Linked DNA regions of Homo sapiens: all the other regions are linked to region 4. Evidence: fine-mapped expression QTL. A gene starts in region 4. Each other region holds a variant in brackets. All regions are shown on one strand. Distances are between the middles of the regions.

Region 1 (8,153 bases), 65 kb after region 4:
CCAACAGATTTTGAAAATAATCTTAAACCTTATATATTTTATAATCAGGGTTAGCAAACACACAGCATGCATGCTGCAAGTTACCCTTTCAATGTGTGTAGAAGACATCTCTAATCAATTGCAACGTTGTTTCCTGCTGAGCTTGGGCAGTCTCACATCCTCTTCAACATAGTGATTTGGTTGTTGCTTAGTGCAGATAGCCTGTGCCATGAAAACTATTTGTCATATTAGTTTTGCACCTTAACCAATGGAGCGAATATGTCAGCAGAATATCCAAAAAGTCTGCTTAAGTTTGGAAAAGGGAAAATATAATGAGGTATAATTGAGGTAGAATAAGGTAGTGGTTTAGACAGGGCACGGTAAACTTTTTGGGCAAAGGGCCAGATGGCAAGTATTTTAGGTTCTGTGGGCCATATGGTCTCTGTCATACCTACTCAACCCTGCCATTGTAGTGCAAAAGCAAAGATAGATAATAAGTGAATGAATAAACCTGTATGTATTCCAATAAAACTTTATTTATAAAAGCAAGCGACAGGCCAGATTTGGCCACTGGGCCATAGTTTGCTAACTCCTGGTTTAAATCAGTGCTACTCAAAGTGAATTGTGTGAATAAGTGATGGTAACATCACATGTGTGCATGTTACAAATGTAGATCCCTGTTCTGTACTCCGAACTTACAGAATCAGTCTGGGATGGGGCCCAGGAATGTGTGTTTATTAGCTGGTGAGGTTATTTTGAGGCTCACTAAAATTGGAAAGTCCCTGGTTTAAATAATATTACACTTCTCTTCTTTAAAAGTTTCATATACCCCAGCTGTGAAACTGCCTGATGCATTTATTTTAATGGCTGATCTTTAATCACTTTTCTTATCTCTTCTGTGGCATTTGATCTATCCAAGTTTTTTACTTCTTGGGTCATAATTGGGAATTTACATTTTGCTAGAAAATTATTTCCTCTAGGCTTCATATTTGTTGCTGTGGCGGTTTTAAAACATTTCTGCAAAATTTTTGACATTCCTATCAAGATGTGAGTTTATGCCTACTTTCCTTGGGTCTAGGCAGGCTTATGACTGCTTCAACCACTGGAAGATGGCAGAAGTGATGCTGACTTCCAAGGCTGGTTCAGAAAAGGCTATGCAGCTTTTTCCCGGTTCTGTGGGAGGCTCACTCTGGGGAACTCAACTGCCATGTAAGAAGTCTGGGTCTTCCATGCTGGAGAGCCCATATGTGAGCATCCCCATTGATAGGCCAAGCTAAGCTCCCAGCTCAGCTCCTGCCATCCGCCAGCATCTGTTGACAGCTGGTTGGCATCTTGGATAAACAGTGTAATTTGAGCTTTCACAGAGCTCCAACCCAGCTGTCATCTCAACGTAATCACATGACAAACCCAGCCTAGCTGAGCCCTGTCTGAATTCTTGACCTAAAGCATCTGTGAGCATAATAAAATAATTGTTTTAAACCACTAAGTTTTAGGGTAGTTTGTTATGCAGCATTTGTAAATAGCACGCAAAATTGCAAGTACTATTGTCTTATAATTGCCTTAGTATCTTTCTTACCTGTATTTATGAATTTTTTATACTCCTAATCATTTATATATTTTTCTCTCAGTTTCCTTTAAGCGAAGTTGGGGGGTATTTATTTTATTAATCATTTCAAAGATCAATTTTTAGATTTCTTCATTTTACAATTTGAGATGTTTAAGTTTTATTAATTGAAGCTTTACCTTTATTCATTTTTTTCTTCCTACTTTCTATGTATTTAATTGTTCCTATCCTAGTTGCTAAAAGTGAGCACTAATTTTCTTTTTCATCTTTCTTGCCTCATAAAAAATGCTTTTGAGGCTGGGTGTGGTGGCTCGCGCCTGTAATCCTAACACTTTGGGAGACTGAGGTGGGCGGATCATCTGAGGTCAGGAGCTCAAGACGAGCCTGGCCAACATGGCAAAACCCTGTCTCTACTAAAAATAGAAAAATTAGCTGGGCTTGGTGGCAGGCGCCTGTGGTCCCAGCAACTCAGAGAGGCTGAGGCACGAGAATTGCTTGAACCTGGGCGGCAGAGGTTGCAGTGAGCCGAGATTGCACCACTGCCCTCCAGCCTGGGCGACAGAGCAAGAGTCTGTCTCAAAAAATAAAATAAAATAAAAGAGAAATGCTTTTGAAGCTTGAAGCTATAAGGTTTCCTTTAAGTTTGGCTTTCACGGCATCCTATTAAGTTTGCTATGAAACATTTTCCTCTTCCTTGTCTTCTGTTTGTAATTTCAGTTTTTATATTCTTTTTATCACAGCATTTTGAAAGTGTTTCTAAATTTCCAAATAATTTTTTCTTTTTTATTCTTGGTGGTGGTGGTGGTAGATTTTTTTCCCCCTATTTTTCCAACATGTGTAATAAATACACATTTCTCCACTGGTACAAGAAAATAAAATTTCAACTATTTCCCCCACCAGGACCCTCTCTTCTTCCCTTACCAGTAAATTTCCTTTTATTTTAGAGTGCTTTTACTTCCTGTTTCCCCACCAGAGACATTTAAATGCTCTTTTGTCCGCTATCTCCCCATGTCTGACCTTAATGCTTAATACCTCCTTCCTTAATACCTAAGTGTAAAAAAAACCAGTGTGGTAATTTTTGCCTCAGACTATTATTAGGTTTTTATTACTTATTTTGCACTGATACTACACATTCTTATTCGATTTCAGGACACTGTGTGATGCTCTCCACATTCTCATCTTTGTAGATGCAAAGCCTCTCTTCCATCCTAAGGAGCAGGCAGGACTTCATACACCTTTTCCGCCCCCTCTCGCACCAGCTCATCTGGGCCAGGAAGACCAGCATGTTCATTTAAAAACATCCAGCTCTGTCTGTTTTTTGGGGGAATATACTAGTTTTCTCTTGCTCACGTAACTAATTACCACAAACTTAGTGGCTTAAAACAATATGAATGTATTATCTTATTGTTTTGGAGGTCAGAAGTCTGAAATCAGTTTCACTGGGCCAAAATGAAGGTGTCAGCATGCCTGTGTTCTTCCTCGGGGCTTTTGAAGAAAATGCATTGCCTTGCCTTTCTCAGCTTCTAGAAGCCACCTGCGATCCATGGCTTATGGTCCCTTTTTTTCATCTTTAACGAGTCTTTCTCATACTGTATCACTCTGAGACTCCTATTATAACATCTCCTACTATTACCTTTGCCCTTTTTTTCCCTCCTTATAGGGATCCTTGTGATTACTTAGGGCCCACCAGATAATCACATCAACAACAGCTTTTTGCCATGTAAGGAAACATATTCCCAGGGTCAGAGGGTGAGCTTTTTGGATATCTTAGGGGGAGGGAGGCATTATTATGTCTACCAGAGGGGCCCATAAATCTCTCAAGACCAGGCTTTTCCTAGGAACCTTGAATTCTGAATCTTGTCCTATGGCTCTTTGCCACTAGACCTCAGTATATCTTTTGACTTAGCAGAGAAAAATTTGTCTTACACTAGCTTTCTCTGTGACCCCATAAGAGCAGAGGTTCTACTCACACTCTCTAGGCCCTACCTGCCTCTGGCCCAGGAAGTAAAAGAGTTAGTTTGGAGTTAGGAGAAGCATCAGCAATTATGTTTTCAGGCTGCCATGTTCCTAGAATCTTTGTCTCTACACTGTAAATATTATTGATGAATAGATGGCCTCTTATACTAAATAGTTTTAGACTGTAGCAGAGAAAACAGTTTAATGGTTAAGAACAAGACGGAATCAGACTGTTGGGATTCAAACCCTAGTTTCGCTGTTTACTACGTATGTGACCTTGGGCAAGCCATATAGCCATACTGACTTAGTTTCCTCATCTGAAAAATGGATAATGATGCTATTATAAAAAACAGGGATAATGATAACACTAGTAATACTCACATAGTGGTATTGTAAAGATTAAATGATATTGTAATTTATAGCAAGTGTTCAGTACACTACCTGGCACATGTTATTTCCTTAAATAAACTAAAATAGGCTCATATGCAAACATTTTGGTTTGTCTTCCATGCGCCTTTTTTGGACTCACCTACTGGCACTGTATACTCCAGCCATACCACAGAATTCACCGTAAAAGCTTTGAGGTGAAAAGCGTGTGCACATGATACAAAGGGATATGGCCACAGAAGGCCAAGAGGTCTTTTTCATAACTGTCGTGAATTGACTAATGTTCCAGGTTTTGGTCTTTAGTCTTAAAGGAATATAAATATTATCTTGTCTTTATCTCAGAATATTTGGGTTCAAGATTACTGATAGATATCATTGACCTAAGGGAAGAAACTGAGGCAAAATTAATATATTTGGGCCATGGTTGAAAACTGAAGCTCAGGAGCTATAGATTGAAGTTGCCCTGAGTATATGCTTGGATTAGCAGCAGTTACCAGTGGGAAAACAAGAAGTTAGGGAGCAGTTCCTAAATTGTTTACCAATCATTTACATTGGTTCATTAAAATAACATAAGTTGTTTGGCTATACATTGTTTTTTGTATCACA[A/G]GTTCCAGGAATATGAGGATAATGGTGAAGGACAATTGTACAACTTACGGTAACTTTTTAGATACTTTATCAGCTAGTCTGGAAACTATAGGAAAGGAAAGAAAAAACAAAATGCCTTTAAACAATTACTTGCAGGCATGGGTACAGGGAACCTGAGGGAAGTCTCATGCTCCTGACTCTCTGGGCTTGATACCTTTTGCATAACTCGCATTCCTCAGACTGCTCTGAGCCACTTTTCTTTCTCAATACTAACAAAGCTCGTGAGAAATCCATGTATAACACTACCCAATGCATATTATACTTACATGGACCTGACTAGTAGATTCTCTCCCTGTAGGTAAACATCATGAAAAAACACATTACAACTAGAAGGTTGTGTATGGAATATGAAATAAGAATGGGGATAATTTATATAATTCAAATATTTAATTAGATAATCTATAGTTGCCTTTTGCATCTATTTCTATGATAGCACCATAGGGATTACCTTGTCAGAGGAAATGTAGTAGTGGAAGTGTTTTGGTAAATGGGCTGTTTCCTCTGGAAAATACTCATATAGTCATTGCTATTGTGGTTGCTTCTGTGATTTTACTGTTTCTTCTCTATGCCTCATGTCTATGGAAACTTCTTCTTAGATATAATAATTTTTCTGGTTATCTTGCTCTGGTCTAAGAGCCACCATCTGTTTACTATGTATTGTTTTGTATAAATAAACCCTCAGAAAAGCACAGTATTTTGTTTAATTCCAAGTTCTTGCCATGGGAACAGCTTACTTGTGAACTGTGCCTACTTATGTCTTCCACCCCAACCCTCTTTTCTTCCTGGGGAAATACCTTGGGATACTGTTAAAAAAAAAAACAAAAACTCACTTCTTGTGAAACATAACAGCAAACAGAGAAATGTACAAAGCAAAAATGTACAGGTTGGTGATTTATCACAAAGCGAACACTCATGTAACCCATCACTCAGATCAATAATAGAACATTGTCAACATGCCAGAAGCCCTGCCTCAGGGCCCAGCCAGTTTGTATAGCTTTCTTTCCCTCTATCTTTTAGAATTTGGCTGGGCACAATTGCTCATGCCTGTAAGCCCAGCACTTTGGGAGGTCAAGGTGGGCGGATCATTTGAGGTCAGGACTTCTAGACCAGCCTGGCCAAGATGGTGAAAACCCGTCCGTTCCTATGAAAAATACTATATATATATATATGTTAGCTGGGCATTGTGGCGGGCACCTGTAATCCCAGGCTGAGGCAGGAGAATTGCATGAACCCCGGAGGCGGAGTTTGCAGTGAGCCGAGATTATGTCATTGCACGCCAGCCTGGGCAACAAGAGTGAGACTCAATCTCAAAAAAAAAAAAAAAAAGAGGAAATCTCTGTCTTTACTTTTACAATAATTACCTGTTTTCTTTTTTCCATCTAGGTATGTGTCTCTAGTTTTACCTTTTTTTTTTAACATATAAACAGAATCTTACAGTATCTATATTTTTGTCTGGGTTTTTTTTTTTTGCTCAGTATCATTTGTAATATTCATCAATGATGTCACATATAACTAGTTATTTTCTTTTTGTGTGTGTGTGTGTTTTTAGTGTATATATCTTACACATCTTGCATTAGATTTATACCTAGGTATTTGATAATTTTGATAACTAGTTGTTTTCAAACATGCAGAATAATAAGCCATTGAATGAATATACCATCGTATTCATCCAGCTGTTGATGGCCATTTGGGTTGTCTCCAGGTTTTTATTGCTATGAATTATCCTGCTCTGAACATTCAGGTACATGTATTTTGGAGCACATCTGCAGACTTTTAAGTTGGGAACATACTTAAGAGAGAAATTTTTGAGTTATAAGATATGCGTATATTTAACTTTAATAGATAATAGATAATGCTAAATAGTCTTCCAAAGCAGTTGTACCAAATAACTTTCTTTTTTTTTTTTGAGATCGAGTTTCCCTCTGTTGCCCAGGCTGGAGTACAGTGGTGCGATCTCGGCTCATTGCAACCTCTGCCTCCTGGGTTCAAGCGATTCTCCTGCCTCAGCCTCCCGAGTAGCTGGGATTACAGGCTTGACACCATGACCAGCTAATTTTTGTATTTTTAGAGACGGGGTTTTACCACGTTGGCCAGAATGGTCTCAATCTCTTGACTTCATGAACTTCCTCCCTCGGCCTCCCAAAGTACTGGGATTACAGGCGTGAGCCACCATGCCTGGCCTAAATAACTTTCTTAAGTAGTAGTGTATGCGAGTTCTCTTTTTTCTGCTTCTTTGCCAACATTTGCTTTTGCTAGCCTTTATAACTTTAGTTGTGTGAGTGGGTGTGTAGTGGTATCCTATGGTGATTTTAACATGCTTTTCCCTGACTGCTAATGAGATTAGCACTTTTTATTATGTTTATTGGCATTTGGGTATCCTCTTTTGTGAAGGCCCCCTTGCAGTTTTTTATTTCTTCCAGTTTTCTGTTATGTTGCCTATCTTTTGAAATTAATTTGTAGGAAGTTTTTATACATTCTAAATATAAGCTCTTTATCACGTGTTGCAAATGTCATTTCCCATTTTGGCTTTTCCTTTCACTCTCTTAATGGTATCTTTGATGAACAGAAATTCTTAAGGCTTTATCGTCTTTGCATTTTATTTAAGAAATCTTTTTGTACCCCAGGGTCATAAAGCATCTTCTAGTGTTTTCTTTTGGAAGCTTTATTGTTTTGCCTTTCAGGTTTACATTTATAATCCGCCTGAAATTAATATTAATGTATGGTGTAGAATAGAATTCGGGTTTCCTTTCATATGAATATGTAATTTTCTCACCACCATTTATTCAAGAGGCTATAATTTTTTCACTGCTTTGCAATGTCATCTTTGTTTTAAATCAAGTGACTATATACATGAGTCTGTTTCTGTGTCACTGTTCTATATATTTCATCTGTTTGGCTGTTCTTAAACCAATACTATATGTGCTAATACAGCTAAGTAAGTGCTGATAGCTGATTGAGAAAGTCCTCCCACTTTTTCTTCTTTAAGATTGTCTTTGGCTATCCTTGACAGTTTGCATTACCATATACATTTTGTAATTAGCTTGTTCAACACATATGCATATACACACCTATTGGAGTTTTGATTGGGATCTTATAGAATCCCTAGATCAGCTTAGGGGGAGCTTCATTTAAAAAATACTGAATCTTTCAATCTATGAACATAGTATGTCCTTCCATTTGTTTACATATTCTTTTATATTATTCAAAACGCTTTACAGTTTTCTGCTTAAAGTTCTATCTTTTTGTTAGATTTATTCTTTCACATTAAAAAACCAGTTTTTTTAGGTATAGTTGACATACAAACAGCTGTACATATTTAATATGTACAACTTAATAAATTTGGAGATAAGTGTACAGCTGTGAAACCATCACTGCAGTGTATGCTATAAACATATCTATCCCCTCAAAAAGTTTCCTCTTGGCATCTTTATTATTACTATTATTATTATTTTTGTGATGCAAATATTTAACATAAGATCTACCATATTGGCAAATTTTTAAGTACAGTAAGTCCTTACTTAATGTCATTGATAGGTTCTTGGAAACTTTGACTTTAAGTGAATGAAGTAAAACAAAACCAATTTTACCAAAATAGGTGAATTGATTTAAATAAGAGTGAAAT
Region 2 (8,153 bases), 33 kb after region 4:
AATGGAAAGTTCTCTTTCTATATCTTTTTATCTCTTGGGTGAAACTTTGATTTATTTTGACAAAATAATACAGAATTCTTAACCTAGCAGTATAAAGTAACACCAGATTCACAAGGGGCAAACTCTTCTCAGCAGAGCAGGCTCAGCAGAATTGCGTAAGGCCAGAGTGCCTGCTTTCTTCCATAAGGCTTTGGGATTAAATTTATTCATCTCTGTTTTTAATCCATCAATGCCCAAAGTCATCTGTCTCTTCTATTTGCTATTTCATAGAGAAGGAAGCCATTTGATGGGAATTTCCTAAATTCCCTACAACCAAATCTATATACTTACTTCCACCTGTTAGCATCCATCTTCTTCAGATAGCTTTCCAGCTGGCCTGCCTGCTACTTTACACTCTTGATTCTCTTACATCCTGCCCCTAAAGTCATATTTTACAAATAAAAATCTGATTATGCCACTCCGCTCCTGAAAAAGTGTTTATTTGCATGCTTGTAGGATAGAGCCTCAGATCTTTAACATACCTTATGAGGCCCTATAGATATTGCTCCTTGTCTACCTCACCATCTTTGACTGACAGCAATGTAGCTCTTTTTTTTCCCCACAGTTCAGCCATACTGGTCCCTTTTAATTTCCTCAAATCTGCCAGGTTTCTTCCTGGCTCCTCTTTTTGGAATGCATTCCTCACTTTCCCTGGCCAACTGATTGCTGTCCTTCAGGTCACTGCTTGTGTTACTCTTTCTGGGAAATCCCAATATAGTCATACCTCTTGTAATTATTAAGTTAGTGACATTATTTTCCAGGTGTTTTTATTACCAGGAAATTCAGTTCTCACTCTTGAGGACTCTTCCTTCACTTTGTGTATTATGTAAGAACTGGGGGTTCCAAAGGGTTAGTCTCATGTACCATGTGGAGGGTGAACTTGAAATCCGAAAAGTACAATATAGCTGTTGCTGATAAAGACTGTTGCTATTGAAGAATGGTCCTGCACAGCCCAAAGGGACTGATTATTTATGATGACCTGCCCAAGATGTAGAAGTTATATTTTACATTCATATACCTACAGACTTACGTTCATACACTTAGTCATTGTTTCTCAAAGCATAATTTTGTGTCATGGTGGTTATAGGCTGGGTTAGAGTCACCCTTCCTCATGATCCCCTGGGCTGGATTGAGCTTGGGACACCAACCCAGACAGCTCCTGCCTAGTGAGTATTCTTTTGGTGCCATTTGTATCCCTTCTTGCCAGAAGATTTTGGTCAGGGCAATGTTAGGTTTACTCCAACAGCTAACTTTGAATCCCAAGGAACACTCCCAGAAGGCCTATGGGTATCCCAAGAAAAAAGATAGTTATTTCTAGGTTGTATGCCCAAGGAAGGCCCTACTTACCCAGATACAGGGTACTTACTCATTTTTGCAATCTGTCACTATGGGAGGCGACTTAAGTGACTCTTCACAAAATAAAGTGAGCTTCAAGGAGACTTTTGCCTCTCCTTGAACTGAGAAGCAACTCAGAGATTCTTTAGCTAGAATAATCTAATCCATAACACTTGGGGACTCTAATCTCTGCTTAAACAGCTACCCCTTTACTTACTTATTGATCTGCTATTCTTGTGATTTTTAAAAATAGTAATAGTCTGTTTTCCCCACTATAATGTAAGCTCCAAGAGGGTAGGAACTATTTCTGTCTTCTTCATTGCTGTATCTTCAGTGCCTCCCAAAGTGCCTTGCAGATAGTTAATATCCTATGCATATTTGATGAATGAATGAACTTTAAGTTTTCCAAAGTAGAATTGTAATAGTAACTATTACTTCTAAGAATGCAGAAGATATTCAGAAAAGTAAAGCCATACTAACCATATTCCTTATCATGAAACTAATTGAGAATCAACAAATAGAATGAAAAGCAAACAAAAAAAAAATCTGTGAAACTAGGAAATGGCTCAGTTCCTAGCTATGGACTAGAATCTAAGAGTATAATGAAATATGGATGAAATCAAAGGGGATGCTAAATTCTGTTATACACTGTTTAGACTGTAAACAGAGTGCAGATTTCACTGAAAGTGGGGGGCCATGAGTATCCCATCCTGTAAGGTTTTCGTGTTGGGACACGCCATGGGAAAACCTGGAAAATCCCCAAGGAAGCCAGTGCAATATCTCAAAATGGAGACAGAGAGAAAGAAAGAGAGAGAGAGAGGAGAGAGAGACAAGAGGACAGTATCTTTTGATTTCTAACCTGCAGTGAAGTGGAGAGGAAGAAAGAAGAAATGACAATGAGCTATGTAGCAGTTAACTGAATCAAATGAACATAAATGAATAACTAATAAATTAGCAAACCAAAGCTAGTTAACTGCTTTACTCTAAGCATGCAGAATGAAGTACATTTCAGATTAAGAATTATTTTAGTAAACAAATTCTTGAAAAATACATCTGTATTCACTTAAAGAAATTGAAGGGGAACATAGAATTTTTAGAAATTGGAGTTAAGGAAAGCAAGGCAATCCCTCTCTGGTGGTCAGTCATAGGATGTGAGGCTTTATAGCTGTTGGCAGCCATGTTCTGTGCCTTGTGGGAGAAATTGGTCTGTCTATGATACTGACAGCCAAGCCAACACATTGAAGCAGAAATAAGAGACAAAAGAAAAATAGCCCTAGTTGAGATAAGCAGTCCTGGTGGCGTTCAAGTCTGTGGTTCCAGTTATCCCTCAGGCTCAGTTACACTTTATACATTTCCTAAAGTTATATGAGGTACTGCATTGTCTTTCTGATAAATTCTTTTTATCTAAACTATTTCAAGTTAGGCTTATGCCATAGGCTTTCAACTAGGAATTCTGTATGATATGTAGATAATACAGGCAGAGAAGATCCAACATATGTGTTATTGGTGTGCCTGATAGAGAGTAGAACGAATGGACAATAATTTCAAATATATCATGGGGAAAAGACCACCAGAGATTAAACGGATTAGTAATCTGCAGATTCAAAGAACACAGAATTCTAAAAGAACTGAAACAGGATGATCAATATCAAATAAGTATGTAACAGTAAAGTTACTTGTGCTTCAAGATTAAAAAAAAGAATCGCCAAGCATCCAGACAGGAAAAGCAAGTCACCGAAAGGGGGAAAATGAGACTGGCTTCTGACATCATGGTAATAGCCAAAGCCAGGAGGCAGTTGAACAGTGTCTGAGTTTTGGTGGAATGTGTGTAGGCAGGGAATAGTGTGACCCACAGATTTAATACCTGGTCAAGCTCTTATTTATGCATAAAGATAACAACCAATATTCTCAAACATTCAAGGACCTAGTCCCTGAAGAAATGCCTCATGAGTAAAATTAATCATCTAAGTGATAAATAAAAAGAACTTGGGAATGAAGAAGCAGAGATAGGAAGGGGTTGATAGGGCATATGGAATCTATTTAAAAATAGACCAAGTAAAGTCTGAATAACTGCGTTGTATGAAAACAGAAGAAAATGTAAAGGCTCTAAAATTAATGTTGAATAAAGGATTTATGTAACAGATATAAAGAGGGGAAGGGAGAATAGGTAGAGGTTTGTAAAAGAGTTTGAACTCCCATTTATCTTCGTGGAGAGAGAGTCAGTAGATAACAGCCTGTAGTTGATGAATCTGCTAGTCTCAGTTGAAATCTAGGCACTGCCACATAGCAGCTATGCATTCTCAGATGAGTTTAATTCTCATAAGTAGCTGTAGAATCTTCATCTGTGTCTTGGAGGTAATGATACTACTAACCTACTAGGGTTGTTGTGAAGATTAAATACAATAATGTGTGTCAGGTACTTAGAACAGTGCCTGGCCTGAAGTAAGCATTCAGTAAAAATTACCAATTGTTTATTATTATTTTAAGGCAAAAACATGGGCAGATAATTTTATAATCTTGGGGCAGAGAAGGCCTTTCTAAGCATAACTCTCAACCTAGTGACCACAAAAGAAAAGATTAATTATTTGATTTCATAAAAACTAAAAGCTTTTACATGACAAAATCACCATGATAAGAATCAATGAACAAATACCCAAGTGGGGGAGAATAATTGCAATATGTTTGACAGAAGGAGGATTGATATCATTAATATTTAGGGATCACTGATAAGTCAACAAGAAAAAGATGAGAAAAAATCAGTATGAACAGATATTTTACAGAAAAAAAATTTGAAAAAATACTTAGCCTCATTTATAATTAAGGAGGTAGAAATTAAAATAAGATGCTATTTTTCATTTATCAAATTGAGAAAGATGAAAAAGTTCAAAAATATCTAATGACAGAATGTGGTAAAATGCACTCTCATATCCTTTCTTGAGGGCAGTCTGACATTTATCAAAATAATAAATGCTCACACATTTATCTCTGCAGTGCTACTGCTAAGAGTGTATTCTACAAATATATTCAT[C/T]TTAGTATACAAAGATATATGTAAAAGGTTATTGCATATAGCATCATTTGTAATAGAAACCATTTGGAAGCAATTTACTTGACTATTGATATGGACTTGTTAAATAATTTAGAATGCTTATATATATTGGAATATTATATAGCCATTAAAACAAAAGAGGTGTAAATATATATATGGATAATGAAAAAATGGTTAGGCTATAATATTTAGAAAAAGGGTAAGTTACTGAGAATAGGTATAGTATGAGCTTATTTACAACCATATGTGATTTATACTTAGGCTGTGTATATGCAAAGAAAATTTCTAGAATGTTACACAGAACCATTGGAAATGATTATCTGTGAGATGGAGAATGGAGATGCTCTGGACTCTTATTTTCATTTTATACCCTCTGGACTCTTTCAGTTTTTATTACAGCAATTATTTTCTGATTTTATAGTAATTAAAAGCAAACAAAAATATTTTAACCGGTAGTGACTATGTTGCTTTTGAAAATAGAATTTAATATTCTGGGAATAAAATTATGGGGTAGAATAGTAAAACAAATCAAGTAGGTTCAACTAATGTTTGTTCAACAAAGATTTAGGAAGCTCCTACTTTGCATGACGTACTAAACTGAGCTTAGCTTGTGGAACAGATAATACTTGATAAATGCTAAAAATAGCGGTTCAGACATTTCTCCTAGAGGTTATATTTTCTTAATTAAAACCAGATGAAATGAAGTCTGTTAGTGAACACTGTTTTTATTACATGATTGTCATGCCACCAACCTAGAAACTAGCATGAGGGGCAGGAAAAAATGCTAAGGTTTGTGAACTTGGCTATGCCATTTTGTTGGCTTTGTGCTTTGGTTGTCATAATATGGCTGCTGAAGGTGTTGGGGATATGTGAGAAGGTATATTAGTGATAATGCTCATGATGACAGGAGAAGATCCTGTATTCCTGAGCAAAAACTAGATTTGATCAAATGCTGTATTTACCAGTGCTATTTATGTTTTGTTGCTTTAGAGGCAGCAATTTTATGAAGGAGGTTGTAGTTTCATGGAGGCAAGTGGACCTCTACATTTTCTAGGGTTTGGCCATGTGAATTATACCAATCTATTTAGAAATTGTGGCTGTTTTCTATTAGAGAGTCTGTGATTCTTCAAAATCTTGTGATTTCATTGGGCTCAAGACATTTTGAGGAATGGGAAATGAGTGCAGTATCCAGTTGGCATTAGCTTTTTGAATTTGAATACCCGCACAGCCAGTTGTGCTATATTAACACTTGTTTTGAAAACGTGAATTTGCTGCAATGCCATTGATATATTAGGAAGCGATTTGAGCATAAGTGAATTTCATGTTTGTGTTATCCATGATTTTTGTCAGCAAGAAACACCAGGTGAACACAGAATACAGCACATAGTTGAACCGAGCCCAGCAGGAACACACAAAACGGACACATGTACATACCTGGAATATCTACCAGCTACCTCAGTTCACCACAAGTTATGAGCCACACCCACCCGCATCTGGTGTCACACCTTTCCTTCTGATTTCAGATAACCTTCTTTCTGGCACCCTTGATTAATTCAAAAACTACAGTCTTTCAAATGCCTATATCTATAAGTAAACTTCAGGTTTTTTTCAAGGTAAGGTGCCATATATTTATGTTTCCTAACCATTTAACATATACAAAAATGCTATGATTTTTTATTAGGTTTCGTGTGTGTGTGTGTGTGTGTGTGTGTGTATCACTGACAAAGATTTGGAGTTTTGTGTCCCTAGCTACATTTCCCCCGTAAGTCCTTGTTTGTGCCATTTTTGCATAGTGTAGTGATTTTTAGGAATGTAGGTATTTCCTTATAGTGAAACTGACTATATCTCTTTGAACAAATTTATGCTGGTCTTTTTTCCTTTTCATTTTAAGTTTATGTAGTGCATCTGATTTGCAATAGTTAAACAGCTCCCTGCAAACAAATGAATGATGGAAATCTTATTTTTCCTTTTTTTGCAGGTAATCCATTGTACCAAGTTAGCTCAACATTTCTGATTTTAAACCAACTTCTCTAGTTCCTTGTTGGCAGTTGGTTAGGGCTTCATGTGTCCTAGTGAATTGAGTGATTTTTCTAAGTTAAATTTTTGTGAAGGGCTGCATCTTGAGATAAGGTCCCAAATGCCTCATGTTGAACTCCTTTGGACTTCTCTAGACTTCTGTGACTTAAGGTTCATTACATTGCTAATCGTCCATGTTTATTATTATATGAAGAAAGCCTTGCACCAAGTTTGTGGCATGAAGTAAGTACATAGGTATAAACAGCATGTGATTGAAAACCAAGTATTTATTATTTGGAAGTGAATTACTTTTTTTTTTTCAAAGCTTAGTTATCTTTTTTGAGGGTTTTTTTCTACTCCAGTGATGATATAGGTTGAAGTAAAAATCTTTCATTGAATGCTGAAGTTCCTTTTTGAGGTTCTAACATGATATACATGAATAAAGGAGTTACAAGTCTATAATTGCCTTCTTTACATCTGACTTATAATGCTTTCTTGTGTCCAGGTTCCGTTCCTTATTCTAGTTCACTTAGTAGTTGCACTAGGAATTATTTCTGTAAAAATATGAGAGATAGGAATGTATATTTTGACTTGAGTATTTGCTTTAAGGTTTTCCTTGTGTAAGTACAGGTTTTTATTCTGATTTTGGCACGTAAGAATTCAGCTTTAAGTTGAAATTTAAGACTTCCTGACTTCCTTTTTCCCCTCCTTTTTTCCTTCCTTCCTTCCTTCCTTCCATCCTTCTTTCCTCCCTCCCTCCTTGCCTCCCTCTTTCTTTTCTCCTCCTCCTCCCTCTCCTCTTCTCTCCTCCCCTCCCCTCCCCTCCCCTCCCCTCCCCTTCCCTTCCCCACAAGGTCCCCCTCTGTTGCCTACGGTGGAGTGCAGTGGCACAATCAAGGCTCACTGCCGCCTTGACCTCCCAGGCTCCAGTGATCCTCCTACCTCAGCCTCCCAAGTAGCTGGGACCACAGGCATGCACCATGATGGCCAGCTAATTTGTTTATTTTTTATAGAGATGAGGTCTCACTATGTTGCCCAGGCTGGTCTTGAACCCCTGGGCTCAAGTGATCCTCCTGCTTTGGCCTCCCAAAGTGTTGGGATTACAGGCATGAGACACCATGCCTGGTTTAAGGTTTCTTTTAATTTTCTCTTTGAAAGAAAGTATCTTAGTCAATAGCAAGTGCATCTAGCAAAGAGGGGCATTACTATGGTGACCCTAAAATCTGTTCTTCTCTTCTTCATTCATTCATTCTTCATAGAACAAATATTTGTTAGGTGCCTAATATGTGTTACATCATTTTAGGCTCTGGAGAATATAATGATGAGCAAAAATACAGTCTTTCCCCTCACAGTCTAGTGGGGGAAATAGACTTTAATTAATTAGTGACCAAAATATATACTTATAAACTGTGATAAGTGCTATGAAGAAAGTGTACAAGTTCCTTTGAAAGAGAAAAACAAGGGGACCCAATTTGGATAAGTGATTTAAAAAAAGCCTTTCTGAAGAAGTGACATTTAAACTGAAGTCTACAGGATAAGGAGTTTACTGGAAGGGAAAGGGGGTGGAAGGATTTCCAGGCAGAGGCAAGAGGTTTTGTGATATCATTTTATAGTACTTATGACCTTTTTAGATGCTTATATAATTAGGTACTAGTCTATGAGCAAGACAGTTTATAGAGCTGTGTTACTGAAAAGATGCATATAAATTACATTTTTA
Region 3 (8,153 bases), 210 kb after region 4:
TCGTATGAAGTTTGAGATCTCTATCAGACCTCAAAGTGGAGATGACTACTTGAGATGGATTTAAGGGTTGGAGCAGATCAAGGTGGATAGAGAGAAAAGAGCCCTAAGGTGGAGAAGGATGTGAAGAGAGACCCAGAGTTAATAGCGAAACTGTGTGCAGAGGCTTCTGGGTGCCTGACAGGGCTCACAGAATCCAGGGAGACCTGGTATCAAGGCACCATCTTGGTCCACACAGCAAGTGTGTCTCCCTCACTCAAGGACTAGGCAGTGACTGTATTTTGGCAAGAAGAAGGATGAGAATGGAGTGGAATGACATGAAATGCCATTCGGAGAAATATCCCTGGGAGATGTGGCCAAATCTCCTTATCGCTTGATTAATTGAATCTGAATAGTGACAGTTTACAAGCCCTCAATAGCTAAATCATAATTCCATAGCCTTCCATTAGCAATAAATCAGAAAATGGTGGGCCAGGTATTTTGCTGAAACCCATATTTGCAGAATCCTGGACTGTCTGAACTGTTCCTTCAGCCCAACTCTTCCTCAGTGCAGAAGCTGCACCCACAGCCAGCTCCAGTGAGCTCCCACCTCTGATGACACGTTCCTGGGGTTGGGGGCTCCCTACCTCCCAAGGCAGATGAATTCCACTCTGGAAACACCTAAGTGTGAGAAAATTCTTCCTATCATCTGACACCTGCTGCTCACTGGCCCTTCTGGAGCTCTTTAAAGGCCTCTCCAGCTGCCACATCCAGCCCCTTGGGTTTGAAGGTAATTCCCACAGCCCTGTGTGCCTTCTTCAGGCTAAACATCCCCATGTCTCTTGGACTCTTCCTTAGTGACATGTTTCTAGGCCCTTCATTCTAGTTCATCTGGGTCTTTTTCCAAAATTGAAGTCAGACCTCCAAGTGTGGCCCGTCACCCCCAGTCCTCGGAACACTGTGCGTCTGTCACTGCAGTCCATTGTGTTCCTGTTAACAGGGATTCGTGGACAATCTAGTTTGAGTTTACCAGGACAGGCTTTAATGACAATGTGTCCCTGAAGCATGGTTATTTTCCTATCAGTGTCCTTGTGGTGGACTTTCAGTGACTGCTAAAGAGGCTTTTTGCAGTGTGTTGCCTGTGGGGAGCAACAGAGAGTGTGTTGAGTCAGCGCTCTGGGGTTGGGTCTGAGTCACAGAGCCCTGAGATTATCCAGGAAGACACACTCATTTTCCTTAAGTATCGGTCTTGCTAATTATCCACTGAGATATATGGGGAGGGAAGAAGGCACAAACCGAATTACAGGCCTGCTTGCCAGAGGATGCCTTAGTGGCTTAGCTCCTGCTGGGGTGGCGGTGGGAAACAGGAGAGGTTTGGCAACCTCACACAGGACCTGTCCTGGACCCTCCAAACAGGGTGAGCGCAGGTGTGGTCTGTGTCTGTGTAAGCTGCATGTCCCCACGCCTCCCGCCCACAGGCACTGGGGCACATTAACTTCTTTGCCTAAATGGAATGGCTCTGAGCCCTCTCTCCCCATGCTACTATCAGGAATCTGAGTCTTTTGCAGGGAAGACTCTGAGCGCCCTCCCCTGAACATCTCTGAGAATTCCCAGGAGTGTTCACACATGTCCTTGTCCACTTGTGGCTCTTTGCCTGAGGCAGAGGCTCAGATGCATCATTTCTGATGTCCTTGCCTCTCACTTTCATTTCCAGGGCTTCTGCTCCCCAGCTACCATCAGCGACTGTGCAGCCTCTGGTCAGCCAGGGGCTGTGGCGGCAGCTGCCCAGCAAGATGCCACATGTCCAGTGTGATGAGCGCCAGGCCCAAATCCCAAGTGTCACCCCAATGTAGCGTGACACAGCAGCCGGGCCCTGCGGTCCTCCGATGTTCCTCGCTGCAGGATGTCCCTTCATGTGGACTGACCTCGTGGAGTGGAGTGGATGTGGGTGGCAAGGGTGTGCTGGTACATAAGCCGTAGGATGTGGGGGTGGGGGCGAGGCAGGAGTTGGGAAGAGGTGTGGTGTGGGAGAGGCACGGTGCATACTGTGGTTACAGAGGGATATGGGTGGGAAGGAGGTCTCAGCAGAGATTGCTCTGGCCCTTCCCTTCTGGGTCTCAGAAGCTCCCCAGGTAATCCTGACATGCAACGTGTCTGTTTCCTATCTGGGCCCCAAACTAAAGGGATCTGTAGGCTATTTCCAAATTGCAAGGAACATAATGGAAAAAGCGTATCTGCCTATAGTGAAATGGCTCAGACCACACTCACCTAAAGTTTTTGGGTAATAAAATATTTCAAAACACAGAGCTCACAAAAGAAATAATGACAGGCATCGTTGGAGGTGTAAAGGGTGAGAGGTAGTCCAGCCCCTCACTGTACAGCAAGGCCCAGGGACAGGGTGTTCCAGCTGCTCGGTGCTCACTAGACCAGAAGCCAGGTGGGGTGTCGGCTACAAGTGGGGTGCTGGGTGCTAGGTGATCTCTCATGTTTCTGCATTCAGGATGTTCACTGTGGGATAAACCTTCCGCCTGTGGGATCCTTATTTGGGGATCAGGGCAGGCACAGGCTCTTGTGGCTTAGTCACTCACAGCCCCAGCAGCTGTCCCTGCTTTCATTCTCCGTGGGTCAACAGCAGGAGCCCTAACCCTTAGCCACAATGGAGTGGGGAAGGGGCAGCCAGGAGACTCTCGGCTGACAGATTACTTGGAATACCCCTTACTAATTATGTAGCAGTCCCCACAACTGCCTTTGCAAGTTAGATTTAAAATGAGGTGTGTTTTCTTAATTTTTTTTATTTTAATAGCTTGTGGGGTACAAGTGGTTTTTGGTTACACGGATGAATTGTACAGTGATGAAATCTGAGATTTGAGTGCACCCATCACCCGAGTAGTGTACATTGTACCCAATATGTAGGTTTTTATCCTTCGCCACCCAGCACTCCTTCTGAATCTCCATAGTCCATTATACCACTCTGTGTGCCTTTGCATATCCATATCTTAGCTCCCACCTGTAAGTGAGGACATAGGGTATTTGATTTTCCATTCCTGAGTTCCTTTACTTGGAATAGTGGCCTCCAGCTCCATCCAAATTGCTGCAAAAGACATTATTTCATTCTTTTTGATGGCTGAGTAGTGTGTATATATGTGTGTATAGTAGTGTGTATATGCCACGGTGTATATATACCACATTTTTAAAATGCACTCATTGGTTGATGGGCACTTAGGTTGGTTCCGTATCTTTGCAATTGTGAATTGTCCTGCAATAAACATACATGTGCAGGTGTCTTTTTGATACAATGATTTATTTTCCTTTGGGTAGATACCCAGTATTGAATTGAATGGTAGATCTACTTTTAGTTCTTTGTGAAATCTCCATACTGTTTTCCATAGGGGCCGTACTAATTTACATTCCAACCAGCAGTGTATAATTGTTCCCTTTTCACCACATGCCCACTTTTTTGACTTTTTAATAACAGCCATTTTTTTTTTTTTTTTTGAGAAGGAGTTTCACTCTTGTCAACCAGGCTGGAGTGCAATGGCATGATCTCGGCTCGCTGCAACCTCTGCCTCCCGGTTTCAAGTGATTCTCCTGCCTCAGCCTCCTGAGTAGCTGGGATTACAGGTGCCCATGACCATGCCAAGCTATTTTTTGTATTTTTAGTAGAGACGAGGTTTCACCATGTTGGCCAGGCTGGTCTTGAAGTCCTGAACTCAAGCAATCCACCCATCTCGGCCTCTCAAAGTGCTGGGACTACAGGCATGAACCACTGTGCCTGGCCAATAATGGCCGTTCTTAAGGCTCATATACTGTTGGTGGGAGTATACATTAGTTCAACCATTGTGGAAAACAGTGTGGTGATTCCTCAAAGACCCAAAAACACAAATACCATTCAACCCAGCAATCCCATTACTGGGTATATACCCAAAGGAATATAAATTTTTCTGTCATAAAGACACATGCACGTGTATGTTCATTGCAGGATTATTCACAATAGAAAAGACATGGAATCAACCTAAATGCCCATCGTTGGTAGAATGGATAAAGAAAATGTGGTATATAAACACCATGGAATACTATGGAGCCACAAAAATAAATGAGGTCACGTCCTTTGCAGGAATATGGATGGAGCTGGAGGCCATTATCCTTGGCAAACTAACACAGGAACAGAAAACCAAATACCACATGTCCTCACTTATAAGTGGGAGTTAAATGATGAGGACTTATGGATAGCACAAAGAGGGGAACCACAGACACGGGGGCCTATCAGAGGGTGAAGGGTGGGTGGAGGGAGAGGATCAGAAAAAATAACTAATGGGTACTAGGCTTAATATTGAAGTGACAAAATAATCTGTACAACAAAGCGCCCATGACACAAGTTTACCTATATCACAAACCTGCACATGTAACCCTGAACTTAAAAGTTAATTTTTAAAAAAAGGGCATTCTTCAAGAGTAATGTGGTACCTCATTGTGGTTCTAATTTGCATTTCCCTGTTGATTAGTGATGTTGAGCATTTTTTCATGTTTGTTGGCCATT[TG/G]TATATCTTCCTTTGAGAAATGTCTGTTCATGTCTTTTCCTACTTTTTGATAAGATTATTTGTTTTTTTCTTGCTAATCTGTTTGAGTTATTTGTAGATTCTAGATATTAGTTCTTCGTTTGATGCATAGTTTGCTAATATTTTCTCCCCTTCTGTGGGTTGTCTGTTTACTCTGATGATTATTTCTTCTGCTGTGCAGAAGCCTTTTAGTTTAATTAGGTCCCATTTATTTATTTTTGTTTTTGTTGCATTTACTTTGGGTTCTTAGTTATGAATTATTTGCCTAGGCCAATGTGCAGGAGAGTTTTTCCTAGGTTATCTTCTTGAGTTTTTATGGTTTCAGGTCTTAGATTCAAGTCTTTTGATCCGTCTTGAGTTGATTTTTATATAAGGTGAGAGATAGGGATCCAGTTTCATTGTTCTACATATGGCTAGCCAGTTTTCCCAGCACTATTTATTAGATAGGGTCTCCTTTCCCCAATTTATGTTTTTGTGTGTATTGTTGAAGACCAGTTGGTTTTAAGTATTTAGCTTTATTTCTGTGTTCTCTTTTCTGTTGCATTGGTCTACGTGTCTACTTTTATACTGGTACCACGCTGTTTTGGTAACCATAGCCTTGTAGTATAATTTGAAGTCTGGTAATGTGATGCCTCCAGATTTGTTCTTTTTGCTTAGGATTGCTTTGGGTACTTGGGACTTTTTTGGTTCCATGTGAATTTTAGGATTTTTTTTTTCTAACTCTGTGAAAAAAGATGTTGGTGTTAGGATAGGAATTGCACTGAATCTGTAGCTTACTTTCAGCAGTGATATAGTTTGGCTGTGTCCCCACTCAAACCTCATCTTGAATTATAGTTCCCATAATCCCCACATGTTGTGAGAGGGACCCAGTGGGAGGTAATTGAATCATGAGGGCATTTATTCTCATGCTGTTCTCGTGATGGTGAGTGAGTTCTCATGAGATCTGATGGTTGTTTTTGTTTGTTTGTTTGTCTGTTTTTTGAGATGGAGTTTCACTCTTGTTGCCCAGGCTGGAGTGCAATGGTGCGATCTTGACTCACTGCAACCTCTGCCTCCCAGGTTCAAGCGATTCTCCTGCCTCAGCCTCCCGAGTAGATGGGATTACAGGCATGCACCACCATGCCCAGCTAATTTTGTGTTTTTATTAGAGACGGGGTTTCTCCATGTTGGTCAGGCTGGTCTCAAACTCCCGACTTCAGGTGATCCACCCACCTCGGCCTCCCGAAGTGCTGGGATTACAGGCTTGAAGAGATCTGATGGTTTTTTAAGGGGCTTCCCCCCACTTCGCTCTGAACTTCTCCCTGCTGCTGCCATGTGAAGAAGGATGCATTTGCTTCTCCTTCCATCATGATTGTAAGTTTACTGAGGCCTCCCTAGCCCTGCGGAATGGTGAGTCAATTAAACCTCTTTCCTTTATAAATTACCCAGTCTTGAGTATTTCTTCATAGTAGCCCAAGAATGGACTAATACAGGCAGTATGGTCATTTTCATGATATTGACTCTTCTAGTTCATGAGCTTGGGATGTGTTTCTAGTTGTTTGTGTCACCTATGGTTTCTTTCAGCAGTTTTTGTAGTTCTCTTTGTAGGGATCTTTTACCTCCTTGGTTAAGTATATTCCTAGGTATTTTATTTTTTGCAGCTGTTGTAAAAGGGATTAAGTTCTTGATTTGATTCTCAACTTGGTGGTATAAAGCAGTGCTACTGATTTGTGTACATTGATTTTATTACCTGAGACTTTACTGAATTTATTTATCAAATCTTGGAATCTTTTGGAGGAGTCTTCAGGGTTTTCTAGGTATATGATCATATAATTGGTAAACAGCTGTAGTTTGACCTCCTCTTTTCCAATTTGCTCTTTCTTTCTCTTGCCTGATTGCTCTAGCTAGGACTTCCAGTACTATATTGAATAGAAGTGGTGAAAGTGGGCATCTTTGTCCTGTACCAGTTCTCAGGGGGAATGTTTCACCTTTTCCCCATTCAGTATGATGGAGTGCTGTGGGTCTGTCATACATGGCTTTTATTATTTTGGGGTAAGTCCCTTCAATGGCTAGTTTGTTGAGAGTTTTTATCATAAAGGATGCTGTATTTTGTTGAATACTTTTTCTGCATCTATTGAAATGATCATATGATTTTTATTTTAATTATGTTTATATGATATATCCCATTTTGAAGTGTGTTTTAATTGGCCAGTTTTTAGGGGGGATTTATTTTAGACAAAGGTGAAGATTAAGGGGTCTGCAATGGCCCTGCCTAGGCAATGGATCCAGCAGCATCAACCCCACAACTATAGGGGTATCTACTGGTCACTCTCGATTAATGAGAACATCATCTCTAGCTTCTAGTTTTTGCTTTGGCTGTGTCTTGGTTGAAGGAAAATGGAGGATTGTACAAGGTGCAAAGGGGCACTGTCGAGTTAGTGGTTTTGATAAATGGACCAACATGGGCAGGATATAGGACACTGGGGAGGAGAGAGGTGATACTAGGAAAACAGCTTCAGATTATGCTTCTGAAGCTGGGAGGTTACGAAGGCTTCTACAGTGGAGCCTTTCCTGCCCAGTCAGACTGTTGAGGACTTCAGGTTTCAGACTATACTAGGGATGGTTGGAGCCAAAGTATGGCAGCTGGAAGATGTGATCTCACTTAAAAGAAATGCAGAATCGGCCGGGCATGGTGGCTCATGCCTGTAATCCCAGCACTTTGGGAGGCTGATGTGGGAGGATCACGAGATTAGGAGATCAAGACCATCCTGGCCAACATGGTGAAACCCATCTCTACTAAAAATACAAAAAACTGGCCAGGCATGGTGGCTGGTGCCTGTAGTCCCAGCTACTCAGGAGGCTGAGGCAGGGGAATCACTTGAACCCGGGAGGCAGAAGTTGCAGTGAGCTGAGATCATGCCACTGCACTCCAGCCTGGTGACAGAGTGAGACTCCATCTAAAAAAAAAAAAGAAAAAAGAATCAAAGCCTGCCAGGACAAGACTGTATTGCAAATGCCTCTCCACTTGCAGAGATCAGACCTGATGAAGAAAGTGCACAGGAGAGAAGAGGGGAAGGAGAGCTCGGAGAACCAAATTCTGTCTTAAGCCGTCTGCCTTCTCCTGGCTTTGGCTAATGGTATTAAATACCCTCCACCCAGCCCCACCCAACATGCACATGTGAACACACGTGTGTGCAGCTTCTGTCCCTCACTGCTGCAGGGGACAGATTTGAGCTTGCCCCCGTGACATGCTTAGACACACATAAAGTCATAGTCACTTCTGCCCCCTCCTGCCCAGGACCCAGGTTCCCAAGGATCAACCGAGATCCCTGTTTCCCAGAGCCTTGCCCTGGTGGCTGTCGCTCAGTGATGCTTGGGCTGGCTGGAATCACAGCTCTGACCCCGCTCATTCCCCTGGAGCCTCTTTGGAATATTCCCTGGGTGGCTGGCTCTGGAAGGAAGCAAAGGAATGCATTTGCCCTGTTGTATGTCTGGAAATCTAAGTAGCCTGAGTGCCTGGAGATTAGCCTGTATTCTCCAAGCTGAGTTTCCCAACTCTCCTGGCTAGGACTCCTTGTATTAGTCCATTTTCACACTACTATAAAGAACTGCCAGAGACTCTTTTCCAATTTGCCCTTTCCT
Region 4 (8,153 bases):
CTTAATTTGTTTTATGGAATGAAAAAATTATAGGGTTTTTTTTGTTATATAGAGTCTCTTAAAATTTTTTGAATAGCAGAGATAACCTTATTACATGTATAAATCCACTGCTTCTTGACTTAAGAAAACTGAAATCCTCCACTCACCCCACAAATTCTGGTATTTTTACAATAGGGTCAGCAAATCCTGGGACAAACTGTACTAATTGCTTCTGTGTTTTGTTTTATTGACAAATTTCAATTCTGGCTTCTCTTCCTTAAATGTCAAGCAGTTTGATATTGCATTGTAACAATAACGTTACCATAGAGTGTTTAAGTAAATAACATATAGCACTTGTTGCTAGTGGTGACATTAATAATTACAGGGATAGAATGAGAGCAGATTGTTGTATAGTAACGGCCCCTAGAATAGACTGAGTTCCTTGGCAGTGTTAAGAATTTGTCATGTTAGTGGTCATGGTGTTGCAATCCATTATCTCACTGAGAATTGATGACTTCAGCTATGGTTACTAGCCCTAATATTTAATGTAGCTGCCTTGAGCGACTTGAATGCTTAAAAAAAATGGTCTAAGGCATTATGTCAAGAGTTACCCAAGGAAACCTAGGATCTTTCTGTATATATTTTAGGGAATCGAGTATATTTTACTTTCTTGTATAGTTCCTCTGGTTCCTCTCTATAAATATTAGTGACATTTGCACACTGGAAATGAATATTTGTCTATTTGTCAGTCTATCTATCCACCTATTTACCTATCCATCTATATCTTACCATGTTCAACAAAATCTCTTTCCTTCAACCCTCCCCTCCCCTCTCTGCCTCCCTCCCTCCCCTCCTTTCTTCTATTAATTCTTTTATTTATTAACTCCATAATGTTTACTAACTAGCTACTAAGTTCCAGGCACTGTTCCCAGGCACTAGGAACAAGCAATAAACAAAGAGGCCAGGTCCCTGCTGTCTTGGAGCTTAGCTTCTGGTGAGGAAACAGGGAAAATAAAGAGCTTGTTTTAGATGGTGTTAAGTGCTCTGAGACAACAAAGCAGGGTGATGTGATAGACTGTGGGGTGGGGCTATTTTAGGTAGGAAGATCAAGGAAGGCTTCTCTGAGGAGGTGGCAAGTGAGCTGAGATCTGAATGATGAGAAGGAACCAGGCTTTAGGAGATACAGGGGCAGAGCCTTACAGAAAGAGGAAACAGCAAGTGCAAAATATTTGAAGCAGTTTAAAATAATAGTCAGTACAACAAAAAGATAAAAGTAGGAATGAGGGGAAATGAAAGAGAACAGGAGAAAGTTGTGATGCAGATATGCAAACTGTAGTTTGACAAAGTTATTAAAATTGAGTTGCAAATTTGGGTGCTATCTTCCTGAAGTCAAGGTGAAAGGGAAATGTGATCAATCTCATGGTCTGCTTTCTTTATTAAAAAAAGTCATGTCAGTTTCTCTAGGGAAAAAGTGTTCTTTTCTGGCACTCAGGATTGAAATATATTTCTTGCATTGACCCTCCTATACGGGGCATATAGGTGATTATATTAGTGTGGTAGGCCCCTCCTCCCAACTCCAAAGAGTTGGAAATACTATATGGAATTCAAAGGCAGGAATACAATTCATTTCAGAAAATACCATGACTAGGAATGGAAAGCCGTCAGAACTCTTTTGGTCTCTTCTTTCTGTATATCTTTTTCAGCCTTCCTCTTCTTTTCCCATTTTCCCTGCAGCCTGGCTTTCTACATTGCTTTTGGCCACATGGTGGGAAAGTATGTCTGTTGAAGGCTTCTGATTTTCTATTTTAAAGATGTTCTGTGTTTCCACATTAGCTTCCTAGAGAAAGATTGCAATCTCTCTGTCCTAATTCCAAATTCCTGGGAGAGGGATATGATTGCCTTATCTTGAGTCAGGTCCCTACTATTGGAGCAATCAACTGTAGTCAGGTGGCCTGGTTACCTTGTCTGAGGATCCAGGTCTAGTTTCCAGAAAAAGACATCTGGTTATACTGCTGTTTTTGAAATGCAACTTGCATTGAAGGTCAAGAAACCATTAGTGGGTAGAAACTAGCCTTAAAAAGAGATTAAAAGTATCAGGGTGCATAGCATGTGATGTGGGTAATGTTTTATAAAACTTGTTTCATTTACTAAATATATGAGTACCTGTGTATTGAGTGATAATGTAAAACATATTTATTTTGATGGATTGTGCTCAAAAAAGTTTGAAAAGCTCTGCGCTGGACAAGCTGGTAGGATTCTGCTACAAAGATGTAATAAACAACATTCTTAAAGTAATCCCTCTAGTAAATGCAGAGGTATCATGAATTTTTTTAAACAGCATCTCTTAATATAAGCAAATGGCATAGTGCTAAACATGACTTGGTTCATGCAATGTTGCCAACGGTGAAGACAAAATGGTACAAACATACAGTTTTTTGGTGGTCTGGTTTAATCCAGGGCAAAACGCAGTCCAGTGGTTGCTTTTGTTTTTAGAGGCAGGGCTGGCTATGTCGCCCAGGCTGGAACCTGTGAATATGTTACCTTATATGCAAAGGGCACTTTACAGATGTGATTAAGGACCTTAAGATGCGGGAGATTATCCTAGGAGATCTTTTTTAATCTCCTAGAGCCTGGTACCTAGTAGGACGTCATTATATGGTAGGTTTCTTGCAGCCCTTTGGTGGCCAGGTAGTTTTTAATTTTGTAGAGATGGGGGCCTCCCAGTGTTACCCAGGCTGGTCTTGAACTTCTGGGTTCTAGCAATCCTCCTGCCTTGGCCTCCCAAAGTGCTGAGATTATCGGTGTGAGCCACTGCGCCCGGCCTAGTCCAGTGGTTTGAAGTTTGAAGTTACCAGTCACCCATTATGACCATTTTGAGTTTTTTGATGAAAAGGACTGGATGAACTAGTTGCCAAATGTAGCCTCCCCCGAAGCAATACAATGAATCCACCTGCCGTATCAAGTTACTGGCTATCAATCAGCTAATTTTAGAGAACATCTGCCTCAAATAATTAGGCTAGTATTAGGAGAGTTGAATTTCTTCCCCACACTGCTAGAGAGTAGGACCCAGGACCACAGAAGCCATTCTTAGTTCAGGCCAGTAAATACATTAGCATACAGCTGGACCCTCTGTTGCATGGGGCAGGCATTCAGATGGTTCTCATAGGTTTGTAGCTAAAACATATCCCTGAGAATCGTCATTTGATCTGTCAGGAGTCTTCTCAGCCCCTGCGTGGGGACAAACACCCTCCCCCCAGCATTTTCCCGTCTTTTTAGGCCAGCTCCCCACTCACTGCAGTTCAAGGCTTGCAGCCCTTGCTCCAACTGGCTGGGGCTTGATGGGCTTGACTCCGAGTGAGAAGAGTGGCCTGAGCATCAATCACCTCAGTACTGTGATATTCCTGCTACAAAGCTTTATTTTACGTAACACGTGGCTGCTCCTCTGTGCCCCAGACGGGGTTTTAGGTCCTTCTCTAAGGCGAGCTGCCCTTGGGCGCGCCTGGGGCTGCACCTGGGTCACGTGGGCGCCGTTGTGCAGCCGGCACCTCCCGGCCAACCCCGCGGCTTGGAGAAGGGGCTTTGCACCCGCCGCCGCTGTTTGTCCTCGCGCGGCCCCCGTCCACTGCCCTGCGGTTGCTCTGCGGGCTGAAAAGTTTCTCCCGGTGCAGAATTCCGGGCTCAGCGACAGCCTGCGCCGAGTGTGCGCACCTGTCGGAGACCCGCCAGTCCGCCGGCCGCGGTGAGTGGTCCCTGGAGTCACTGGCTCAGGGCGGGCCCGCGGGATGGGGCGGGCGGCCCGGGGCGCAGCCGGCCAGGCCGTTGCTATGGCAACGCGGTGGAAAAACGGGCCTCTGGGTATCTCGCTGCCGGCCGGCTGGTAACCCCCCAGCGGAGGGACCGGGCCGAGCCCGCGGACCCCTCCGAGTGTCTCCTGGGGCCCAGCCGTTGGTACCCCATTTCCCCCGGGTCCGGTATTTGGGGTGGTCTCTGTCTGCCCCGGTTCATCTCCACCGTCTCACCTTCACCCCATCTTGGGACGTGAAACTTTTTGAAAGTTTAGAAGCGAACTTACTGTGGGGTAAGTGTGTGGGAAACATCCTTAGAAGTTCTGAAGTTGTGTTTCTTTTTTTTAAACTGCTAGAGCCTGGTACCTAGTGGGACCCCATTATATGGTAGGTTTCCTGTTGCCCTTAAGATAGTCTCTTGCACCTAGAGGCTGCACATAGGAGGTGAAAGGATGACATAAAGCAGCCCCGTACTGGCTCTGTGGACAGGTAATTTAAGAACTCTCCCTCAGCTTCCTAAATGTAGATTATAATTTCTCACAAGGTCGTGGGTTTCAGTGAACCTATATGTGAAGCTGTTTTGTGAACAGTACATGTGAAAAGCACTTGAGCGTTAGTAAGGGATATTTGCATGCTAAGAGTGGTCTGGTGCTCCCCGTCCCATATCACCAGCTAAGAAGGACCTTCTTTTTTGCCTGACCACCAAATGACTCCAATATCCAACCAGAAAATAGGATAGTCCTGCCTTGAAAGAGGGCTCTGTGAATGGAAAGGAACATCAACAAGTTTTGAACCCAAACTCTTTCCTTGTTCTCCAGGCCCGTGCCTTTAGACAGTGATGGATATGCAGATATATCGCGCATTTAAATTTTTAGCTCGTGTAAATCTCTGTTGCTATCTCAATGGGTCATACCAACCTCTAGTTTGCAAATCAGAAATCTTGGCCTCATCCTTGACACCTCGCACTTTCTTCCTTTCCATATCCAAACAATCATCAAGTTCTATTCATTTTATCTTCAAACCAAATCTCAAATCCATTTGAGTATCTCTGTCTCTGCTACTATTACCCTAGACCAATCTACCATGATCTGTTGTCCAGTAGTAGCCTCTTAACTAATCTAAAGGTATTTATCCTTTCCTTTCAATATTCCCATCCATTCTTTGCCCTGCAGCAGGAGTAGTATTTTCACAACTAAAATTTGATTATGCTACCCCCCAACCTCCTCTAGCTCAAAATCCATCATGGCTTCTCATTATTCTTAGAATAAAGACAAAACTCTTAATGTGGCCAAAAAGTTGGGTGACCATGTACATGACCATCCAGACCAAGATATTTTTGAGAGTTCGAGGCTGCAGTGAACTTGCCACTGCATTCCAGCCTGGGCAATGGAGTGAGACCCTGTCTCAAAAAAAAATAAAAAAACAGTTCCCAAAAATGAAATTATAGGGAGGTCAAAGGGCAGGAACATTGTGAATGCTCTCAAAACATCGAAACATTGCCATACTGTTTTTCAGAAAGATTATGCCAATTTACATTGCCACCGTCAGTTTTATGACACCCATATTAGCATTATTATTTTAAAAACTTTGCTAATTTCACAGATAAAAATGGCACCTCCTTATTTTAACTCACATCTGTCATTATTAATATGTTTTAAGTGAAATCTTATTGTTAGCTATTAGCAAAAGCTTTTTGATGGTTTTTGTATTGGAGTCTTAGTTTTTTCTTACCAGTTGTTTAATTGTTTGATTTTTATCTTCCCCAGCCCAGGCAGGAACCACTATGCTGGGCTTTGGCTGGAATTAGTTGAATAAGTTATCCCTGGAGCCTGGGGCGAGTTGTTACTTCCCTGCAGGCTACAGGGCAAGGCAGAAAACTGTTTCATAGTCTGTTTCCTGGGGCAAAAACTGGAATCAAGACTGGGCTGATTGCTTGTTTTTCTGAACTTTGAGTCAAACAGGGCTTGGAAGAAAGAGAGCATCCAGGTAGGAGGCAAAGACCAAGACAGACAAGGAAAGGCAGAGTAATTTTTTTTTTAATTTTATTATTATTATACTTTAAGTTTTAGGGTACATGTGCACAACATGCAGGTTAGTTCCATATGTATACATGTGCCATGTTGGTGTGCTGCACCCATTAACTCGTCATTTAGCATTAGGTATATCTCCTAATGCTATCCCTCCCCACTCCCCCCCACCCCACAACAGTCCCTGGTGTGTGATGTTTCCCTTCCTGTGTCCATGTGTTCTCATTCTTCAATTCCCACCTATGAGTGAGAATATGCAGTGTTTGGTTTTTTGTCCTTGCGATAGTTTGCGGAGAATGATGGTTTCCAGTTTCATCCATGTCCCTACAAAGGTAATTTTCAAAGCTGGAGGAGAGAAGCTGCAACCTCTTTTTTTGCAGAGACATTGCGGTTTCCTGTATGGAGGATGAGGGAATGCTGGGGGCACTGTCTTGGCCATACAGTGAACCATGTGAACTCTTGTTATAGTGAGAGTATTAACCCTTCGTCATTTGGGGCATCTTCCCCACAATTGCCCTTTCATTTATGATGGCTTATGATTTATAGAAATTAAAACAATTTTATGTTGTCTGCTTGTTAATCTTTTCCTTTATGATCCATTGCTTTTACGCTTAGAAAGTCCTTCCCATGAAGAGACCAGCTACCTATCTGCATTTTCTTTAAAAATGTTATTTTGTAATATTAGCAAATCAAGAGGTAAAGAAAATAAGTACAAGAAAGCTGAGTAGTGTGATGTCCAATAAAAAATCTAAAAGAGGATGATACAAAGGTGGGTACTCGTGTCTTCTTCATGTGTCCTTGAATCAAGGAGCAGAAAAGAGCTTATACTGCTGTAAGGGAGATTTAGGAAGGCTGTCTCTGACAGTTGTTTGAACTGATGGCTGTTTCAACCATTGACTTATCTGTCACACGTTGTAGAAGCTTATCCTTAGAGACTTACAGAAGAAGTATCCTTCTGAAAGAGAAGATGTGTTCTCTGGAGCTATTTTCTACTTTTATTCATCTGATGATACTATGTAGTACTTCAAACACCTATAGTTGTTAAATACTGAGAAATAACTTCCCTGTTTTTAAAAAGAGACTTACAAAATGGAAAATGCAATATAAAATTAATTGCTGACTTTTTTGGCATTGTTAAATTGGTATGCCTTAAGATGCGATTCAGAAAGAATTTCCTTTCCTGCTGAACTCCAGTATATATGAGTGAGGCTAACTGTGTTTTGTTTGGATTTATCTTAGAGCTCTAGAATGTGAAGAATGGGCATCTTATTTTTAAGCTTTAATATATATTTTCTTAGTTTATTAACTAAAATAAATTGTAAGTGCATAAGAAATTACTAACCTCACAAATCCCACAGTTTTATTGACTTGAAGTTGTTTTATTTTAAAAAGTTTACAAGGTGAGGGGCAGTAATTTTAATAATTAGAATGTCCTTTCTACATATATGGACTAATTATCTTTCTTAACCATTGACTTGTCAGTGAAGTTCAGTAAGGATGTGGTTTACATTAGAAATAAATTAAGAAAAAACAATTTTCTATTGATAAAGATAAGTTCACTTAGGAATACTATTATCCTTATTTTTGATAAAGTTATTTAGTAAACAATATTGACTATTATAAACATTCATTCAATAAATATTTATGGGGTGCTGATCATATGCCAGGCACAGTTCTAGAATATTGTATTATATGTTTACTTTTATAGTGTATGTGTAAAAAGTTTGCTTGTGATTCAGTATTCTTAACATGAGCTGATGATTATTTGGAAAAACTGGCCATTTGGACTCACACATATTAATTCAGAGACTCATAAAAAAGCCTTACGTAAAATGTTAATGCAGTCTCCAAGGTTGAGATGTTGGTTATTGAAAGTTCTACTCTGTTACTTTGTCATTATCATGGTGGAATGCTTGTCTACCACAGAGCTCACTGGGAGAAAATCCATTTACCATTTACCAAAGGCAGTGCATCTGAGGCTCAGGTTCTTAGACTTGAATTCTTTCAAGTTTGTTTGCTGCTAGCAAATCTAACATCGAGGCTCTTATCTTTGCTCTAAGGAGCTCAGCTTCCAAACAGCTGAAATATTGGGAAGAAAGCAAATATTTATCCTTGGATATTTTTCATGGAAATCCAATTAATTTTTCTCTCAATCTTCTTTATTTTGGTTTTCAGTTTATGGCAATAAAATTCAATATTTTTCATATTTGTTATTATAAAAGTAAACACCAATATCCAGCAGTGATTTTCAAGTTAACTTCTTTATTGCTTTTCTGTCATATCTCTTTGATGGTACATATAATATGTAAACTTGGCTCCTTTTTATAGTTGCACCTCACTTTTTTTATTGAGATATAATTTA

Alleles and levels. Positions count from the first base shown, and alleles are read on the strand shown. Sizes are in standard deviations (SD) of each study's normalised expression. Not every link is listed here.
For the expression in tibial nerve of the gene that starts at base 3,573 in region 4, A is the high allele of the variant in region 1 and G is the other (small effect, 0.33 SD a copy in GTEx).

Evidence for each region. PIP is the estimated chance that this variant, and not a neighbour inherited with it, causes the effect.
Region 1: its variant is fine-mapped to the expression of STK33 in tibial nerve (GTEx, PIP above 0.99).
Region 2: its variant is fine-mapped to the expression of STK33 in thyroid (GTEx, PIP above 0.99).
Region 3: its variant is fine-mapped to the expression of STK33 in whole blood (TOPMed, PIP above 0.99).

What each region holds. Positions count from the first base shown.
Region 1 is chr11:8,524,676-8,532,828 of GRCh38, reverse strand. The region is part of intron 1 of STK33 (serine/threonine kinase 33); the gene reads left to right. Among named protein-coding and RNA genes, the nearest start is that of STK33, 65 kb to the left of the region's middle. The variant A/G (reference allele first, on the strand shown) is at 4,493.
Region 2 is chr11:8,556,380-8,564,532 of GRCh38, reverse strand. The region is part of intron 1 of STK33 (serine/threonine kinase 33); the gene reads left to right. Among named protein-coding and RNA genes, the nearest start is that of STK33, 34 kb to the left of the region's middle. The variant C/T (reference allele first, on the strand shown) is at 4,403.
Region 3 is chr11:8,375,879-8,384,031 of GRCh38, reverse strand. It overlaps a transcript of STK33 not described here. Among named protein-coding and RNA genes, the nearest start is that of LMO1, 120 kb to the right of the region's middle. The variant TG/G (reference allele first, on the strand shown) is at 4,514.
Region 4 is chr11:8,589,648-8,597,800 of GRCh38, reverse strand. It overlaps STK33 (serine/threonine kinase 33), which reads left to right and starts at 3,573. Exons shown (of 16, transcript NM_001352389.2): 1 at 3,573-3,718. RefSeq lists a silencer at 3,751-4,010.